Regions from separate parts of the Homo sapiens genome. Here region 2 is linked to region 1. The links come from fine-mapping of genetic effects on gene expression. A gene starts in region 1. The other region holds a variant in brackets. All regions are shown on one strand. Distances are between the middles of the regions.

Evidence for each region. PIP is the estimated chance that this variant, and not a neighbour inherited with it, causes the effect.
Region 2: its variant is the best candidate, but not a certain one, in a credible set for the expression of FAF1 in blood mononuclear cells (TOPMed, PIP 0.61).

What each region holds. Positions count from the first base shown.
Region 1 is chr1:50,956,682-50,967,445 of GRCh38, reverse strand. FAF1 (Fas associated factor 1) reads left to right here and starts at 7,179. Exons shown (of 19, transcript NM_007051.3): 1 at 7,179-7,679. The coding sequence starts at 7,635. It also overlaps a transcript of CDKN2C not described here. RefSeq lists silencers at 7,213-7,372, 7,483-7,532 and an enhancer at 7,843-7,892.
Region 2 is chr1:50,646,115-50,654,114 of GRCh38, reverse strand. The region is part of intron 8 of FAF1 (Fas associated factor 1); the gene reads left to right. Among named protein-coding and RNA genes, the nearest start is that of FAF1-AS1, 210 kb to the right of the region's middle. The variant G/C (reference allele first, on the strand shown) is at 3,051.

The DNA.
Region 1 (10,764 bases):
TTGAAACTGGGAAGAATCTGGCAGTGTTTTCTTTAATGTAATTGTTGAGAAAAAAACTAGAGTTCTTTTCTTAGGTAACTAAACTTGAATTGTGAATCAAATGAGAACTACAAAACAAGAAATTAACTCTCTTTTTCTTACATATATGTAGACGTTTCAAATAGAAACATTTAAGATTCCATTTATACCAGTAAGAAATAAATAATAATTTACTTTTGATTATTCTGGGAACTGTGTAATCTTTTCATACAGCCAGAGGGTGTGAGGACATATTAGCACTGTTGGCTGATAAAAGAGAACTGGTATTAGTCCAATTTATGAGGATTGCCTTCTAGCATTTATTATGGTTTCTTGCTTAGAGATAAATTGTAAAGAGGAAGAATCTTAAATTGTATGATTACATAAAGTACGGGTAAACGTACTATAATTTTCATGAAATAAAATGCTTATTGCTGAACAACTAAGGAAAACTTATGATAATTTAAGATGTACACAGAGTTGTATTAAGATTTTTGGAGGCCCTAAGCACTGAAAAGATTTTGATGTTCTACCACCTCTTCCTTATATAGAAATAAAAAGAAAAATAACAGAACCCCAAAATAACAGTAAAAAAGTCCAACAAAGTTCTGATTTTTTTCCCATGATGGCTACTTCAGTGGTTTTGCTGAGATATTAAATTATTTGGCAAAGGTTTTTTTTTTTTTTTTAACATTCTGGTTTTGCTGGTGCCCTGAAGCATATGCTTCATCTGCCTGTTGGGTAAACCAGAATTGGCAGTGCAGAGCTTAGGGTCTTAGTTCAGAAGGCATACATAAGTATTACACAGTAACTCCAATGAAAATCTAGTATTTATTGAGGGCTAGTTCACTACAGCAGATTCAAGGGTATCTCTACCCTCAATAAGCTTATATTCTAACATGGCTTACAAGAAAAATTCATAGTTAAGTTTCTACTATATTGAGAGTGGTGCTTTCCTTTTTAACATCAAAATGATAAGTACATCAAATACTGAAATATAGCCTTTATAGTTAGATATTAAATATTAACAGTCATGGAAACCTTTTGCTCCAGCAGTTCATAATCATTTAAGGAGACATAGAAGTGGCCGGGCGCAGTGGCTCACGCCTATAATCCCAGCATTTTGGGAGGCTGAGGTGGGCAGATCACCTGAGGTCAGGAGTTCGAGACCAGCCTGGCCAACATGGTTAAACCCCAACTCCACTAAAAATACAAAAAAAAATTAGCTGGGCGTGGTGGCTGGCGCCTGTAATCCCAGCTGCTCAGGAGGCTGAGGCAGGAGGATTGCTTGAACCTGGGAGGCAGTGGCGGCCCAGCAGTCTCAAAAAAAAAAAAAAAAAGAGACATAGAATAGAAATGTGATTCAGTCAAATTATTCTGTGCTTTTCCCTCATTGACATAGAATAGAAATGTGATTCAGTCAAATTATTCTGTGCTTTTCCCTCATTGACTCAAGTAGGTACAGTTTCTGAATGATTAACTTTTGGAAATGTGTATGTGGTATTTACCATTTATTTAACTGGTCTCAAAGTTTTCCTTTTTGTTGTATTTATAGATCAACAGAGGTGGAAAACAGACTGGGCACCCCCAGGCAGCCTTTTATGTGACTTTATAATTGTAGCTTCAGCATTTTATTTCTGAGATTCAGTGGTTTTTTTCATATAGGTACTTATTTATGAAAATTTTTTATTATTTTTATTTTATTTTATTTTTGAGACAGGTTCTCACTCTGTTGCCCAGGCTAGAGTGCAGTGGCTTGGTCATGATCATGGCTCACTGAAGCCTTGACTTCCCAGGTCCAAGTGACCCTCCTACCTCAGCCTCTGGAGTCGCTGGGACCACAGGCATGCTCCACCATGCCTGGATAATTTTTCTAATTTTGTGGAGATGGGGTCTTACTATATTGGCCAGGCTGAAAGTTCTTTTTTTTTTGAGACAGAGTCTCTCTCTGTCATCAGGCTGGAGTGCAGTGGCGCGATCCCGGCTCACTGCAACCTCCACCTCCAAATTCAAGCCATTCTCCTGCCTCAGCCTCCTGAGTAGCTGGGATTACAGGCGCCCACTACCACACCCAGCTAATTTTTGTATTTTTAGTAGAGATGGGGTTTCACCACGTTGGCCAGGATGGTCTCCATCTCCTGACCTCATGATCTGCCCGACTCAGCCTCCCACAGTGCTAGGATTACAGGTGTGAGCCACCGCACCCGGCCTGAAAGTTCTTCGTTAAAGTAAGAAGGAAAAAAAGCCCAGTAAGCAACCCAAAAGCTGAAAAATAATAGCAACAATTAATATTTGTATAGTGTTTCATGGTTATAAAATATGATGCATATCTATCTATCTATCTATCTATCTATCTATCTATCTATCTATATTTTTGAGACTGAATCTCGCTTTGTCGCCCAGGCAGAGTGCAGTGGCGCGATCTCAGCTCACTCCAATCTCTGCCTCCTAGGTTCAAGCAATTCTTCTGCCTCAGCCCCCGAGTACCTGGGATTACAGGTGCGCACCACCACGCCCGGCTAATTTTTGTATCTTTAGTAGAGACAGGGTTTCACCATGTTGGTCAGGCTGGTCTCGAACTCCTGACCTCATGATCCGCCCACCTTGGCCTCCCAAAGTGCTGGGATTACAGGTGTGAGCCACCACACACAGCCAATGCATATATTAATCTTTACAACAATTCTGTGAAGTGACTGTGATAATAATCCCCGTATTTCAGGTGAGGGAATTGAGGCTGGCAGAAATTGTGATTTAAAGTCAGTGAATACTAGACATAGGATTTGAATTCAGTTCTTGGGGCTCCAAACCTTATACTTTTTCCATTAGTCCAGGGTCCGCCACTAGTATCCTAAACAACACTAAATCACTAGATGAAATACATATGTGCAGTAGCATTAGTTTTCTCATGAATTACATTATGAGCAAGAAGTATTATTTAAGAAATTGGTTATCTTAACCAAAGAATCAAGGTTATCACTACCAGTAATAACTCAAGTTGATAACACATGGCCTTGATATGATGTAACAAGGACATATCACCTCTGCGGTGATACACATCTCAGTGTAATTCTGAGAATACATTAGGTAATCCCAGATTGAGGGAGATTTTATAAAGTTCCTGACTCTTCAGAAGTGTCCACTGAGAAACTGTCACAGATTGGAAGAGGCTACTGAGACATGACAACTAAATGTAATGTGGTATTATTGGACCATGGAACAAGAAAAGGACATTAGTGTAAAAATCCAAATAGAGCCTCCAGAATTTAACTAGTAGTATTTAGCAGTGTTAATTTCCTAGTTTTGATAGATGTACCATGTTAAATAAGATGGTAACATTAGAGAAAAATGGGCTAAAAGCATATAGGAACATTCTGTACTGTCTTTGGAAGTATTCTAAAATAATTTCAAATAAAAATTTAGTAAAATATAAATAATATTTATTATTTATATTGGAAATAAAGATGATATAAAAGTTTCTTTTAAAAGAACATGGAGATTCTAGAAAAAGATCTGTATTTAACTTAGGCTGAGCTCCATGAACTACTGTGGGCCAACTATGAGAATAGATAAATTAAAATTACTTTTCTTTGCTCGTGCATGGACCAAATTTCTTTACATTTCCTTCTTTTGGTTTATGACACTTAACTGAAATTGTTTCTCTTAAGGATGGAATTCTGGAGAAATGAAAAATGATTTTTTTTCTCCTAATTCAGTATTTATTTTTCTTCCCTTCTCTTATCTGTAGTAGATAACCACTCTGGATGCTAGGTATCCAACCATGAAGAGTTAGGCCATAGGGAAGAAACAGTGTCTTTGGGAATGGTATAAACTAAGCAGCATGGAAGGGAAATTGTACAGAGGCAACATGGTAAGTGGAAGGAGCACTAATTTGACCTAGTCTTGAATCCTAGGTCTGTCACTCTGTAGCATGACTTTGAGCAAATTCTTAACTTGCCAGAGCAGCTTTATATTCTGTAAAGTAGTAGTTGTAAATATTAAATGAGATAAAGTTTGTAATGTATCTGTACATAGTAGACTCCCAATAAAAATTAATAAATTCAAAAGCATTTGCCATCTGTTATGTTCACAAGACTTTGCTATGTTTGCACTATGGTGAATATAAAAACACATGGCATAAAGCGGTTTATAATCTCAAGAAACTTTCAACCTTTGGGGGGAGATTAAACATACATATATGAAAACAATTAGAGAAAAAAATTACAAAATTTACTGGAGCACTAAGTTGTGTTGTAAAGATAGTAAAAGCAGTAATTAGAAAGGAGAAAGATCCTTACTGGCTTAAATTTTATGAAAGGGGTGGTCCTGAGAAAAGCATTTAGGAATTGGTATACAGAGTAATAACTAATATGTTTGGAGAGTTTTAAGGTTTATGAGGAATTTTCACAAGCATTTGATCATTCAACATTCAAAATCACAAGCTTTTTAGCCCAATTTTAGAGATAAAGAAATAGAACCAGAGAGCCTTTGTTAAAGAGCAGAGTTAGAACTCAAACCACAATTATTGACTATTAAATTTATGTTAGTGTGATACCAATATTTTATATTTTCCATGCATTTTCATAATTGTTTTTTCATTTATCAGAGGAAATAGTCCTGTGAGTAGCTGAAGTCAGAGAGATTAAATGACTCATCCAAGTTCCCTCAGCTAATTATTTGGAAAAGCAGTACTAATATATGCCTGAATGTCTAGTGTGTTCATCCCATTGTTCTACATACCACATTGTTTTAATTTCCAGATGGAGAGAAAGGAAAGAAAAAGGGAGCAACATGGGATTTGAATGGGTTCTGAGGTACACACGCATCATTACAGAGAAAAACTCTCAACTTTTTAGGACTGCATTAATCCTTGGCCATATAACTAGAAACAATTATTCACCTGCCTTATACTGAGGGTGGCCTATATGAATGGGGCAACTGAATTGCCACATTTATATTATTGGTGCTGTGTTTTGCCTCATGATTCACATTTGTGCTGACTTTTGGAATTACTTTCTTTTTAAAAAAATATTTATTTATTTATTTTGAAACAGTTTTACTCTGTCACCCAGGCTGGGGTGCAGTAGTGTGATCTTGGTTCACACTGCAACCTCCACCTCCCAGGTTCAGGTGATTCTCCTCCCTCAGCCTCCCTAGTAGCTGGGACTACAGGCATATGCCACCATGCCCAGCTAATTTTTGTATTATTTTTAGCAGAGATGGGATTTCACTATGTTGGCCAGGCTGGTCTTGAACTCCTGACCTCAAGTGATCTGCCTGCCTCGGCCTCCCAAAGTGTTGGGATTATAGGCATAAGCCACTGCCCTGGCCATGGAATTATTTTCTTACGGCTGAAAATTAAGCAAGACATTTTGATTCATGTGACTGTGGAGGGTTCTATTATCTAGCTAATTCTGGTCTAAACACAGATTAGTACTTAAGAACTGTAGGCCAGCCTATTTTCATTTAAGGAAACACACAGAATAAACTCAGATCATAATACAGTGCACTTCTTTATATTCAGTGAAACTGAACAATTAGGTCATATTTCTGATTTCTCATGAATATATTCCCAGTTTATGGAGCCTAGGCCTTGCTGGGTGTGGTGGTATGGCTCACACCTGTAATCCCCACTCTCAGGAGGCTGAGGTGGGAGGATGGCTTGAGCACAGGAGTTGGAAGCCAGCCTGGGCAACATAGTGAGGCCCTGTCTCTAAAAAAGTAAATAAATGATACAAGTTTAAAAAGTTCTTAAGGGAAGCCTAGGCCTTCATGCTACATGATGATTTCACTAGTTATTTTAGCTCTACAGGATAAAATCAGCAATCTTACTTCACATTTTCAAGCTTTTACATACTTTCCAAAGCAAGTAAATGCCCCATGACAATCCAGAAGCTGATATTTTCCCAAGTCAAGGATGAACAACTTCCACTGTCACACTTTCTCTAACCTGGACGACAATTACAAACTGTCACACTTCATTGTACATAGTCTTTGGCTGTTTTAGTTACAGAGGTTGTCAATTTCTGACCATGGGTTGAAACTTTCAATATTTGGTGAATATTCCAAAATAATTTCTTATGAAAATGAATAGGCCGGGTGCAGTGGCTCACGCCTGTAATCCCAACACTTTGGGAGGCCGAGGAGGGCGGATCACGAGGACAGGAGTTCGAGATCAGCTTGCCCAACATAGTGAAACCCCGTCTCTACTAAAAATACAAAAAAAACTTAGCCGGGCTTGGTGGCGGGAGCCTGTAATCCCAGCTACTATGGAGGCTGAGGCAGGAGAATCGCTTGAACCCAGAAAGCGGAGGTCGCAGCGAGCCGAGATCGCGCCACTGCACTCCAGCCCGGGCCACAGTGCGAGACTCCGTCTCAAAATAATAAATAAATAAATAAATAAATAAATAAATAAAAATAGACTGACTATATTCAAAGCTGGATTCAAGTTTTATCCCATTTGTAAGATGTCTCAGCTTAAAAAAACAAATATAACTGCAGCAGTAGAAAGGTTTTCCCTTTTTTCCCCCTTTGGAGCAACCCTATTAACTCGAGGTTGTTATTTCTCATAACTACCTTATCAATTAAAAAAAATGCTCCTCCTCTTCTCTGGAACGAGATTTTTACCTTTCTCAGCTTCCTCGTCTCTCCCATGTCTACCATGGCAGTCTGGTTACTTCTGTGTTACGGAGTCTGAGGATGCAGACGTCAGGGAGCTTGGGACTGGGTGTGACAGTGTGGATTCGGTTTTGACAGGTTGAGCGTGAGAGACTATATGAAGCTGTATTTTGCTGAAACATTGTAGAGAAAAACATATATTTCTGAAATGCTGTTTGTTAGACGAGTTGTAACAGTGTGTTTAGTTGGTTTGTGAGGGTGGTGTGTATTTGTGTGACTAACCACGTGAGGTGCACAATCTGGTCCCCGCCTCAGCTAGGGGGAGGCGCTATCCTGAGGCCTTTGCTTAAATCCAAACTGGAATAACCTGTTGCGAGACTTGAAGCTTCCGCAGCTGCAGGTTGCAGTCTCTGCCGCCAGCGCAGAGATCCTGGCCGGGTAGTCGCGCGCTCAGCGCTTGACAGGAGGGTGGTCACGTGGAGCCGCAAAGCGGCGCTTTGCGACCTCGATGACAGGCAAAATGTGCGACAGCCGTGGCGCTGGCCAACCAGGGGCGGAGGCGGCGGCCAGGGAGGAAGCGGAGGAGGCGGAGGCGGCCGCGGCGTTCGCCCGCCCGCTCGCTCGCTCGGTTTCCCCGCCCCCGCCGGGCTTAACGCCGCTGAAGGTATCCGGGTGCGCGCTGTCGCAACCTGCCCTCATCCTGGCCCGCGACTGTAAGACCGGACCCACATCCAGACCAATCTTCCTGTCCGGGCTGCTGCGACGCGGGCTCCGCAGGTTGCAGGCGGGCGGCCGGGGCGCCTGAAGGTTACCGAGTGCATGAGCGCCTAGCGCTTCCCGCGCTGCCCCGCCCGCTGGCCCGCCGACCCGCCCGCCGGCTCGCCCGCCAGCCCCTCGGCGCCCGGCGGCGGCGGCGGCGGTGGCGGCGACGGTCGCAGGAGGTGCCGTCTGCCTCCCAGGTGCGCGCTTCGCTCCCGGAGCCGCGGAACTCGGCGGCCGCCATGGCGTCCAACATGGACCGGGAGATGATCCTGGCGGATTTTCAGGTGAAGTATCTGGCCCTCTTCCCCTCCCACTTCCAACCTCGTGGGTTTCCGGTGCCACAAGGGAGTCTTCTTCCCAGCGTTTGAACGCTGCAGTGGTGTGTCATTTAGGCTTTTATACGGTGCGTGGCGTGTGTGTGTGTGTGTGGCGAGCTATGGAGAAGCGTATAATTTATATGCTATCATGAGTGTGTAGAATGTGTTAAGTACGGGTTGAATGGGATTGGAGGTATTAATGACTTGGGTTACAATGTGTGTGGAATGTGTAGTGTTTCCTGTATTATATGGGGGGACGTGTAGAGTTTTTGTTTTAATTGGTGTTGGACCATTAAGTATGGGATGTTTTGGGTGGTTCTGTGGGGAGAGATGTATGGAGTGTGAGCGTGGAGCGTGTGGTGTTATGGGCGTGGTGTATTTATATTGTATTAAGGGAAGAGTAAAAAAGCAGAATGATGAGATGGCGAGGGCAATGACAATGGGGTACTGAGGTCCTTTTCAAAGAGGAGTAAACATTTGAGACTTTGCCTAATTGGAATCTTTGGAGGGTAAGAAGATAACAAGGAGACAGATAAGACTATATATTCCAGAGTATCTCTGCAATGAATTCACAAGCTTAATAAATTACCTATTCATATTTGCGGATTCCCCTCCCCTACAGACTTGAATTGCTTGGTTGGTGTCCTTTCTCCAGGAATACTTTAAAGGATAAGTAAAGGCTGTTCTCTTAATAAACCCAGTCGTAGTGCCACTGACATGTAAGTATCTTAGGAAGGCCCTTTGAAAGTAGAACTGTATGCATTGTGAAAGACTTGGAGCTAGAACTAATATCCTGTGAGTGCTACCTTTGCCTTTTGATGTTTGGTGAAGGAATTATTTTAGTGAGATATTTTTGGCCATTTTGGCATCAACTTAGAAGCTACTGTCAAGTATAGGCAGACTTTTCCCTCTTTTTTAATACTCACATTGCACAGGTTCTAACACTAGCTTAGTAGGCAGTATTTTTCCTTGCTGAAATTTTGTTGGGCTTTTCTCTCTCTCTGTTCTATTAAGTTCCTTATTTTTTTTAAAATTAATTAATTTTTTTTTTTTTTTGAGACGGAGTCTCGCTCTGTCGCCCAGGCTGGAGTGCAGTGGCGCGATCTCGGCTCATTGCAAGCTCCGCCTCCCAGGTTCACGCCATTCTCCTGCCTCAGCCTCCCGAGTAGCTGGGACTACAGGCGCCGGCCACCACGCCTGGCTAATATTTTTGTATTTTTAGTAGAGACAGGGTTTCGCCGTGTTAGTCAGGATGGTCTTGATCTCCTGACCTCGTGATCCACCCTCCTCGGCCTCCCAAAGTGCTGGGATTACAGGCGTGAGCCACACTGCTCCCGGCCCTTATTTTTACAAATTAACGTTCAGATAACCATTTTCAGAGTTTGCTGTTTTGGTTACCCAGTGAAATCTGATATACAGGTATTAGGAATATGCATATATCTACAGTTTGATTAAACCATAACCTCCAAACTAATAAAGGAGTGTCCTTATAATAAAAGTTGACCATAAGATTTTGATGTTTTGTAGGTTTAGGATTGGCCTGAGGCTTTTTGCCTGCCTACATTTTAAAAAATTTTTCAATTAATTAATTAATTAAATTTTTTAGAGATGGGCCTTGCCATGTTGCCCAGGCTGGTCTTGAACTCCTGGGCTCAAGTGATCTACCCACCTCAGGCTCCGAAAGTGTTGGGAATACAGGTGTAAGCTCCAACACCCAGCCCTGCCTAAGTTTTTCATCATCGTCTTTTTGTTTTGTTTTTGTTCTCCAGTTCCATTTTTTATCTAATGTGGAATGCACTGTTTGAAAAAGGACTCTATATTTCAAGGTGTAGTTTTACCGTGTTACAAAATTGTCTTCTGATTTCCCTCATTAAAAACTTTATAAAGTAATTATAACTTTGTTTTAATTTTACCTTTTTATCTCTAATAACTTGCATCTGCTTTCTATTTTTTGTGTGTGACAATTATTATGCTTAACTGTTAACCTTATATTGGCTAAAGGACAGGAAATTTAGGCTTCTTGTACTCAGGCAAAGCAAGATTTTCCAGGGATTTTGGTTTGGAAATGAAAATGAAAATTTCGGCCGGGCATGGTGGCTCAGGCCTGTAATCCCAGTACTTTGGGAGGCTGAGGGGGCGGATCACGAGGTCAGGAGATCAAGACCATCCTGGTGAACATGGCGAAACCCGGTCTCTACTAAAAAAATACAAAAAATTAGCCGGTCGAGGTGGCGGGCGCCTGTAGTCCCAGCTACTCGGGAGGCTGAGGCAGGAGAATGGCGTGAACCTGGGAGGCGGAGCTTGCAGCGAGCTGAGATTGCGCCACTGTACTCTAGCCTGGGCGACAGAGCGAGACTCTGTCTCAAAAAAAAAAAAAAAAAAAAAAGAAAATGAAAATTTCGATCCCATTAATAAGATGGGAATAAGTTTTTCTCTTCAGACCAATGGTAATGCTATACACAATTGTTTAAAAATGGGAAAAATAGAATGGCATCTGCAGTGAACAATTGTTTGCCTAATAATGTTAATTTTATATTGTCAAATAGGTAAAAGAATGTTATTGATAGAAGAAAAAATTATTTGGAAAACTACACACCTTAAACACATTAGCCATTTGTGTGTTTAGGAACCTGGAGTTCTCTTACAAATGATCGTCTTAGTAAAAAGTGATGATTCTTCCTGTTTTTTATATTATCTCAATTTTTATAGGATTGACTTAAAAGTAAGCATTTATTCAGTTATAAGAAAACCAGGTAATTTATTTATTTACTTATTTATTTTTTCTGAGATGGAGTTTCACTCTTGTTGCCCAGGCTGGAGTGCAATGGCATGATCTCGCCTCACTGCAACCTCCGCCTCTCGGGTTCAAGTGATTCTCCTGCCTCAGCCTACTGAGTAGCTGGGATTACAGGCATGTACCACCATGCCCAGCTAATTTTGTATTTTTAGTAGAGATGGGGTTTCTCCATGTTGGTTAGGCTGGTCTCGAACCCCCGACCTCAGGTGATCCACCTGCCTTGGCCTCCCAAAGTGCTGGGATTACAGGCATGAG
Region 2 (8,000 bases), 310 kb after region 1:
ACAGAAAAGTTTTAAGACAATTTATGTAGATGCTACTTGAATCTAATTACAATGTAAACAGTATGCCTTTGGAACATGCTTTGTGGATTATGAAATTTTAAAAATCAGAAACTTTAATAATCAGAAAATAGCAAAACCTTTATTTTTGGTCAGGCACGGTGACTCACACCTGTAATCCCAGCACTTTGGGAGGCCGAAGCCGGTGGATTACCTGAGGTCAGGAGTTTGTTTATTTATTTATTTTTGACTTGGAATCTTGCTCTATCGCCCAGTCTGGAGTACAATGACACAATCTTGGCTCATTGCAACCTCCACCTCCTGGGTTCAAGCGATTGATTCTCCTGCCTCAGCCTCCCAAGTAGCTGGGATTATAGGCGCCTGCCGCCACACCCGGGTAATTTTTGTATGTTTAATAAGGACGAAGTTTCACCAAGTAGGCCAGGCTGGTCTTGAACTCCTGACCTAAGGTGACCAGCCTGCCTCGGCCTCCCAAAGTGCTGAGATTACAGGCATGAGCCACCGTGCCTGGCCGAGGTCAGGAGTTTGAAACCAGCCTGGCCAACATGGTGAAACCCTGTCTCTACCAAAAATACAAAATTAGCCGGGCGTGGTGGCTTGTGACTTTAATCCCAGCTACTTGGGGGGCTAAAGCAGGAGGATCACTTGAACCTGGGAGGGGGAGGTTGCAGTGAGCCAAGATTGTGCCATTGCACTCCACTGGGCAATAAGAGCAAAACTCCATCTGAAAAACAAAAACAAAAGCCCCTTTATTTTTAATAAACACTTCCAGAAAAAAAAATCTTTAGGTTTAGGTGCTTAAATTTGTTTCTGAAAAACTGATTTTAGCATTGATGTTATAGTATATAATTAGAATTATTGGCTGGTCATCTATGGCTAAGGATAGGGATGTGTTTGTGGTTTTCTTGTGGTTTTTTTTTTGTTGTTTTTCTTGCTTGAGTGAGAAATTTGATAGAAAATGTGCTACCTTTATTTTTACAAAAATAAAAGAATAATGTTCATACATGATGGTCTACTGTTTACCTGAGGAGGCATGAAGAAAACAGAAATGTTCTCAGTATTGTCTAAGAACTTGTTACAAGAAATAGTAATATTAATAGAAGAAGATAATTAAGACCTGAGCATATCATTAAATTCTCTGAGCTTTAATTTTGTCACTAATTTGCAGAACTATTATGAAGATAAGTGATAATATAAATACAGTACCTGGCTCATAGTAGACACTCAGTAAATGAGTCGACATTATAATTAAGATAACTGCAAAAAAAGTTATTGTAATTACAGATTACAATTACAGGCAAGAATTGGCTGGTTTAAAGAAATGAAGTGATGTCTGAGACTTGCTTCAGAATAACCTATGTGTGGCAGAGTGAGTGAGGATAGAGCTAATTTAGATTAGGCATCTATCAATCATTGTTGAATCTAGGTGATACATATATTGGGTTTATTATACTGTTCTCTCAACTTTTGTATATATTTGAAAATTTTCATAATAAAAAGTTTAAAGCAAAAATAGTTGTCTTGTTTAAGAGCAGGGACATAAGATAATAGAGAAACTCTGGAAATGTGGGGCTTCACAGGGTTGGAAAAGCCAACTGCTTTTGCACCCCACCCTTGTAGAAACCAGACTGAAATTGGCTTATCAGGTACAAGTTCCAAGAATGATAGGCAAAGTCGATGAAATATGATCAATTCTTCTGCCTGTAAAATAGTGCCTTATACATTTTAGGTGCTAATTCATTGAATTGAGTTGGCATGGTCTTTTATGAGACCCATGTTTTAATGGTTTTTATAACATTTAATTTTTTGCCAAAGAGTTGTCATGCAGTCTAATTACTATAGGAAAATATGGAAAGCAGCTAAAACTGTTTGTTTCCAAGACTGTAATACTACTTGGTGCTCTTAAGTCACAGCAAACACAAGAGGGAATCCCTATTAAGAGGCTTGATTCTTTTAGCCTCATTATTGCCATTTGCACCTTGTCCCAGAACCTGTGAAGTGGTGCCTGCCCACACCTCCCCAGAGCAAATGTTGCGGCATTGGCAGGGTGTTGCCTTGAGCTTGCATGATTTGATACAACAAAGATGTTTAGGGCCAGGCTGCTTTTAACTGATGCCACAGCAGATTCACTAGCTCCAGTGCTTGAATTTAGCCAAAAATGGCTTATAACTAGTATTCTGAGGAGATCCTGGCCAAATAATATGTCGTAAAACCTTTTTCATTAGGAGTATAAAAACTCATAAAACTGGTACTTGTAGTCTATATTTGTTGCAGGCGGTGGTGTTTTTATACTTACTGAAATCATTCAAGTGGAGGCATCTGCTACAAAACAAAATAGTCCTCACAGCTTAGGGCATGAATTGGGTACAGCTGAGAAATGTCAGCTGTGTAAACAGCCTGAAATGTGTTACCAACAAAAATATAATTAATTTCTTTCCAAGACAGTGTGCCATAACTTAATACTTAGAATGGTTTAACTTTCAGAGAAAGCACCTGAACATTTGCTTCCTAGTGCCAGAGTAGAGGATTGGTTATAAAGGTCATTAAAAGTGAGGTCATTTTGTACTTTTATTGCTCAGTTGAAGAAATTTGTGTGGCTTTAAATATACAGTAGCCTTAGATATCATTGGATTCTGTGAATTTATGAAAATACCATAGATCAAGAAATTAATGGATTTGGGGTGATGAAAATGTTCTAAAAATTAGATTGTGGTAAAGGTTGCACATCTCTAAAGTTTTAAAAAATAATTGAACATTTAAAATGAGTGAATTTTATGGCATATAAATTATGCCTCAGTGAAGCTATTTTTTTAAAAAAGAAGTTAATTAACTAGATTAAAATACTTTTTCACTTACATTTTTATCCTGCATGAGAAATACTTTGCAGTAACACAAGAGATGTTTTGTTCAGTATACTTCTCATTAACCTTTGACTCACCCAACAGGAGAAAGAAATAGACCTCTTGTAATCAATTCTTTTATAATCTTGAGTCTCTTATGAACCTAATAGACTTCAGTCTTGGGCATTTTCA[G/C]GTTACTCAGTGAAGTCAACACTCATTTACAACATTGTTGCCCATCTCCCTTCAGAGTTAACGTATTTTCTTTGCTTGTGGTTGTACTCGAATAGGGTGTGGGATACTGTATGAATTGTCAGTAACTCCGTTCCTTTTGTACTCTTTGATCAGGGAAATAGGTATCTAAAGCTTTACCAGTAGGAAAATGTTTTCATGCTGTGACAGTTCAGCTGTGAGAACAAGGAGTTACAAGTAGGCAAAATCTCATTTTACACTTTAACAAGGAAGCTCTTGGTTTCTAGATAGGAGAAATAATTTTAACACTGTGAATTATGTTTAGATACCTTATTACAATGCAGACAATATGAATACATGTAGTTCTTTTTAAATTCCTGGATTTAATAATGCTTATACAAAGAAAACTCTTTCAGTTTTTTGTTTTTATTTTTATTTATATATTTTTTTGAGACAGTCTTGCTCTGTCACCCAGGGTGGAGTGCGGTGGTGAGATCTCAGCTGACTGCAACCTCTGCCTCCCAGGTTCAAGTGATTCTTATGCCTCAGCATCCCAAGTAGCTGGGATTACAGGCGTATACCACCATGCCCAGCTCATTTTTGTATTTTTAGTAGAGACAGGGTTTCGCTGTGTTGGCCAGGCTGGTCTTGAACTTTTGGCCTCGAACTCTTGGCCTCAAGTGATCCTCACCTCGGCCTCCCAAAGTGCTGGGATTACAAGCCTAAGCCACTGTGCCCGGCCAACTCTTTCAGTTTTATTACTTTTTTTTTTTTTTTTTTTTTGAGACAGAGTTTCGCTCTTGTTGCACAGGCTGGAGTGCAATGGTGTGATCCCGGCTCACCGCAGCCTCTGCTTTCCGGATTCAAACGATTCTCCTGCCTCAGCCTCCCGAGTAGCTGGGATTACAGGCATGCACCACCACGCCCGGCTAATTTTGTATTTTTAGTAGACATGGGGTTTCTCCATGTTAGTCAGGCTGGTCTCGAACTCCCGACCTCAGGTGATCCGCCCACCTCGGCCTCCCAGAGTGCTGGGATTACAGGCATGAGCCACCGTGCCCAGCTTAATACTTTATTATTGTGCTTTCTCTCTCTCTCTCTTTGACGGAGTCTTACTCTGTCACCCCCAGGCTAGAATGCAATGGCATGGTCTTGGCTCACTGCAACCTCCACCTCCCAGGTTCAAGCAATTGTCCCTCCTCAGCCTCCCGAGTAGCTAGGACTACAGGCACGTGCCATCATACCCAGCTAATTTTTTTCTTTTTCTTTTTTTTTTTTTTTTGTAGTTTTAGTAGAGACGCGGTTTCATAAGTTGGCCAGGCTGGTCTTGAACTCCTGACCTTGTGATCCACCTGCCTCGGCCTGTCAAAGTGCTGGGATTACAGGCATGAGGCACTGTGCCCAGACTTTTCTTTCTTGATTACTAATGCTCTTCTGTATTTCTGTCATTGGCCACAAAATATTCACTCAGAATTGAGAAACTAGGAATTTTAGAATCAAAGCTCTTTGGGCGTGTGTTAGGATTCAGAAAGCTACTTATTAAATATTTTCACATTGAGAATGTGAAATAATTTACAAGTAAAACCATTACACAGTGGCTTTTATATAAAATAAAAAGAGCCAGGCACAATGGCTCACACCTGTAATCCAGCACTTTGGGAGGCCAAGATGGGTGGATCACCTGAGGTCAGGAGTTCAAGACCATCCTGACCAACATGGAGAAACCCCATCTCTACTGAAAATACAAAATTAGCCAGGTGTGTGGCGCATGCCTGTAATCCCAGCTACTTGTGAGGCTGAGGCAAGAGAATTGCTTGAACCCGGAAGGCGGAGGTTGCAGTGAGAGATTGCGCCATTGCACTCCAGCCTGGGCAACAAGAGCAAAACTCTGTCTAAAAAAAAAAAAATTAAAATGAATAAATACATAAAATGAAAACTGCACACAGCCCTCTCCCCACCCCACTCTTAAATAGAAATGAATCTGAAGGCTGGACACGGTGGCTCACACCTGTAATCCCAGCACTTTGGGAGGCCAAGGCAGACGGATCACGAGGTCAGGAGTTCGAGACCAGCCTGGCCAACGTATTGAAACCTGTCTCTACTAAAGTTACAAACAATTAGGGCCAGGCCCCCTAACTTTTGAGATGGAGTTTCGCTCTTGTTACCCAGGCTGGAGTGCAATGGCACGATCTTGGCTCACCGCAACCTCCGCCTCCTGGGTTCAAGTGATTCTCCTACCTCAGCTTCCCGAGTAGCTGGGATTACAGGCATGCGCCACCACACCCAGCTGATTTTATATTTTTAGTAGAGCTGGGGCTTCTCCATGTTGGTCAGGCTGGTCTTGAACTTCCTACCTCAGGTGATCCGCCTACCTCGGCTTCCCAAAGTGCTGGGATTGCAGGCATGAGCCACCGCGCCCAGCCAAAGTTAATATTTCTAAATAGAAGTACAACATGAATCACATTCAGCCTTGCTTACTTATTTTCAATGGCTCCTTTATGTACAGATTTTTATGCTGGCATTCAAAACCCTTCATTCTTTAGTCTGAAACTTCCCTTCCAGGTTTGTTTTCCCATACAGGCTCTGAGTAAATACTTGATAAATATTTGTTGAATGAATGATTGAATATTACACCATATGTGTCTCAGCTTTAGCTAAATACTTATCTTACTATTTTTCGAATATACTTGGTACTCTCCCACTCTGTCATTTAATCATACTCTTCCTTCCACCTAGAATACCTACAACAATTATCTCCTTCCTTGAAGACCTTTTTGTTTTTTTGTTTTGTTTTGTTTTGTTTTGTTTTGAGACGGAGTTTCACTCTTGTCACCCAGGCTGGAGTGCAATGGCACGATCTCGGCTCACTGCAACCTCTGTCTCCGGGGTTCGAGCAATTCTTCTGCCTCAGCCTCCTCATAGCTGGGATTACAGGCGTGTGCCACTGTGCCTAGCTAATTTTTGTATTATTAGTAGAGACGGGGTTTCACTATGTCGGCCAGGCTGGTCTCTAACTCCTGACCTCAGGTTATCCACCTGCCTCGGCCTCCCAAAGTGCCAGGATTGGAGGCGTGAGCCACCGCGCCCAGCCAAGACCTTTTCTTTGAGAAACCCTGCCTATGCCCTTCTTCCCGTGCTGCCTTCTCCAACCCTCTTAGAAATGCATTTATAGTTCTCTTCTTCTACTTAAGTTTTTTTCACTTTTTTCTTATTTTGTTATTTGTTTCCTTCATTTCTCCCTTCCTTCCTCCTCTCTGGCTTCATCTGGGTCACCACAAGCAACTTAATGTCTATGGATCTCAGTCTCCGTAACTGTCGAACAATAACTCGTAGAGTTATTGTGAAGATTAAAGAGTCAGTAGTTACAAGAATACTTACTGCTAGGTTTATTTTGAAGACTGAAGTAGTATGTACTAGAAAGAATGCCTTAACATGGTTGACTTTTGGCTATTACTGTGTTTTATTTATTGTTTTAATCTATCTATTCATTCACTTGACATTTGTGGAACAACTCTGTTAAAAGAAAACTTCAGACAAATTAAATTTAACAGAGTTTAATTGAACAAGAAAAAAAAATGATTCGCAAATTGGCAGCCTCCAGAATCATAGCAGATTCAGAGAGACTCCAGGAATGCCTCGTGGTTAGAACAAATTTATAGACAAAAAAAGGAAAGTGACGTACAGAAAGAAGCGAGGTACAGAAACAGCTGTATTGGTTACAGGTTGGCATTTGCCTTATTTGGAAACAGTTTGAACATTTAGCAGTGTATCAGTGGTTGAAGAATGGCTGCTGAGATTGGCCAAGACTTAACTATTATTATAGGCATATGCTCATAAGTTAGGTTTTCAGTCTTGTCTACCTATTAAGTTAGGTTAAGCTTCCTCCACCAGGACTCAAATGTAGAAGTCCGGAGCCCTAGGCTGGGCATGGTGGCTCATGCCTATACTCCCAGCGGTTTGGGAGGCTGAGGCAGGTGGATTGCTTGAGACCAGGAGTTTGAGACCAGCCTGGCCAACATGGTGAAACCCTGTCTCTACTAAAAATACAAAAAAAATTAGCTGGGCGTGGTGGCTCACACATGTGATCCCAGACACTCAGGAGGCTGAGACACAAGAATTGCTTGAACCTAGGAGGCGGAGGTTGCAGTGAGCCAAGAGCATGCCACTGTACTCCAGCCTGGGTAACAGAGCGAGACTATGTCTCAAAAGAAAGAAGAAGAAATAGAGTCCTTCTGAGATCATATTTAGTTCGCTTTAACAACTCTTACAGGCCAGTAACTGTGCTGGCCCTTAAAGTTGCAATGATAAGATCTTGCTTCTCAGAGATTGATGAGTTTGGTGGGAGACATATATAAACAATGACAACTGAAGTATATAAATGCAATGGGATCATAGAAGAGGGAACAACCAATTTTGCTAACAGTTAGTGGTAGTGAAAAAATGACTTCTCAGTGAAAGGGACATTTGATTATGTTTTAATTTGTATACTTGTATTCCTCCTTTTGTAAATTATAAGCATTGGAAGTAAGAAATGTCTTCACATTTATATCAAAGAGTGTTTTAGGCATTTATTTAAATTGCATTCATTTATTTAAATTGTTCAGTGCTCCACAAAGTTGACATCTATGGCAATAAACAACTAAAGGATCGATTTGTATGAGTATAGTAATTGGATAAACATTTTGAGAATCATTTATTTCTAATAAAAATTAAGTTATCAAAACTAAGCATTTTATAGCAGCAAGTAGAATAACAGATTTAGGAGTGTGCAGAGCTACATTGTGAGCCGATTTTTACCAATGTGTGTGTGTGTATATATGTATGGGTGGGAGGCAGAGGAAATGGAGGTGGAGGAGAATGCAATTGAGCAAACCAGTCCAAGTTTGTTGAATCCTAACATTACTATTATTTAGATGTTACTTAATGTTTGAGCTTCAGTTTCTTTATCTACAA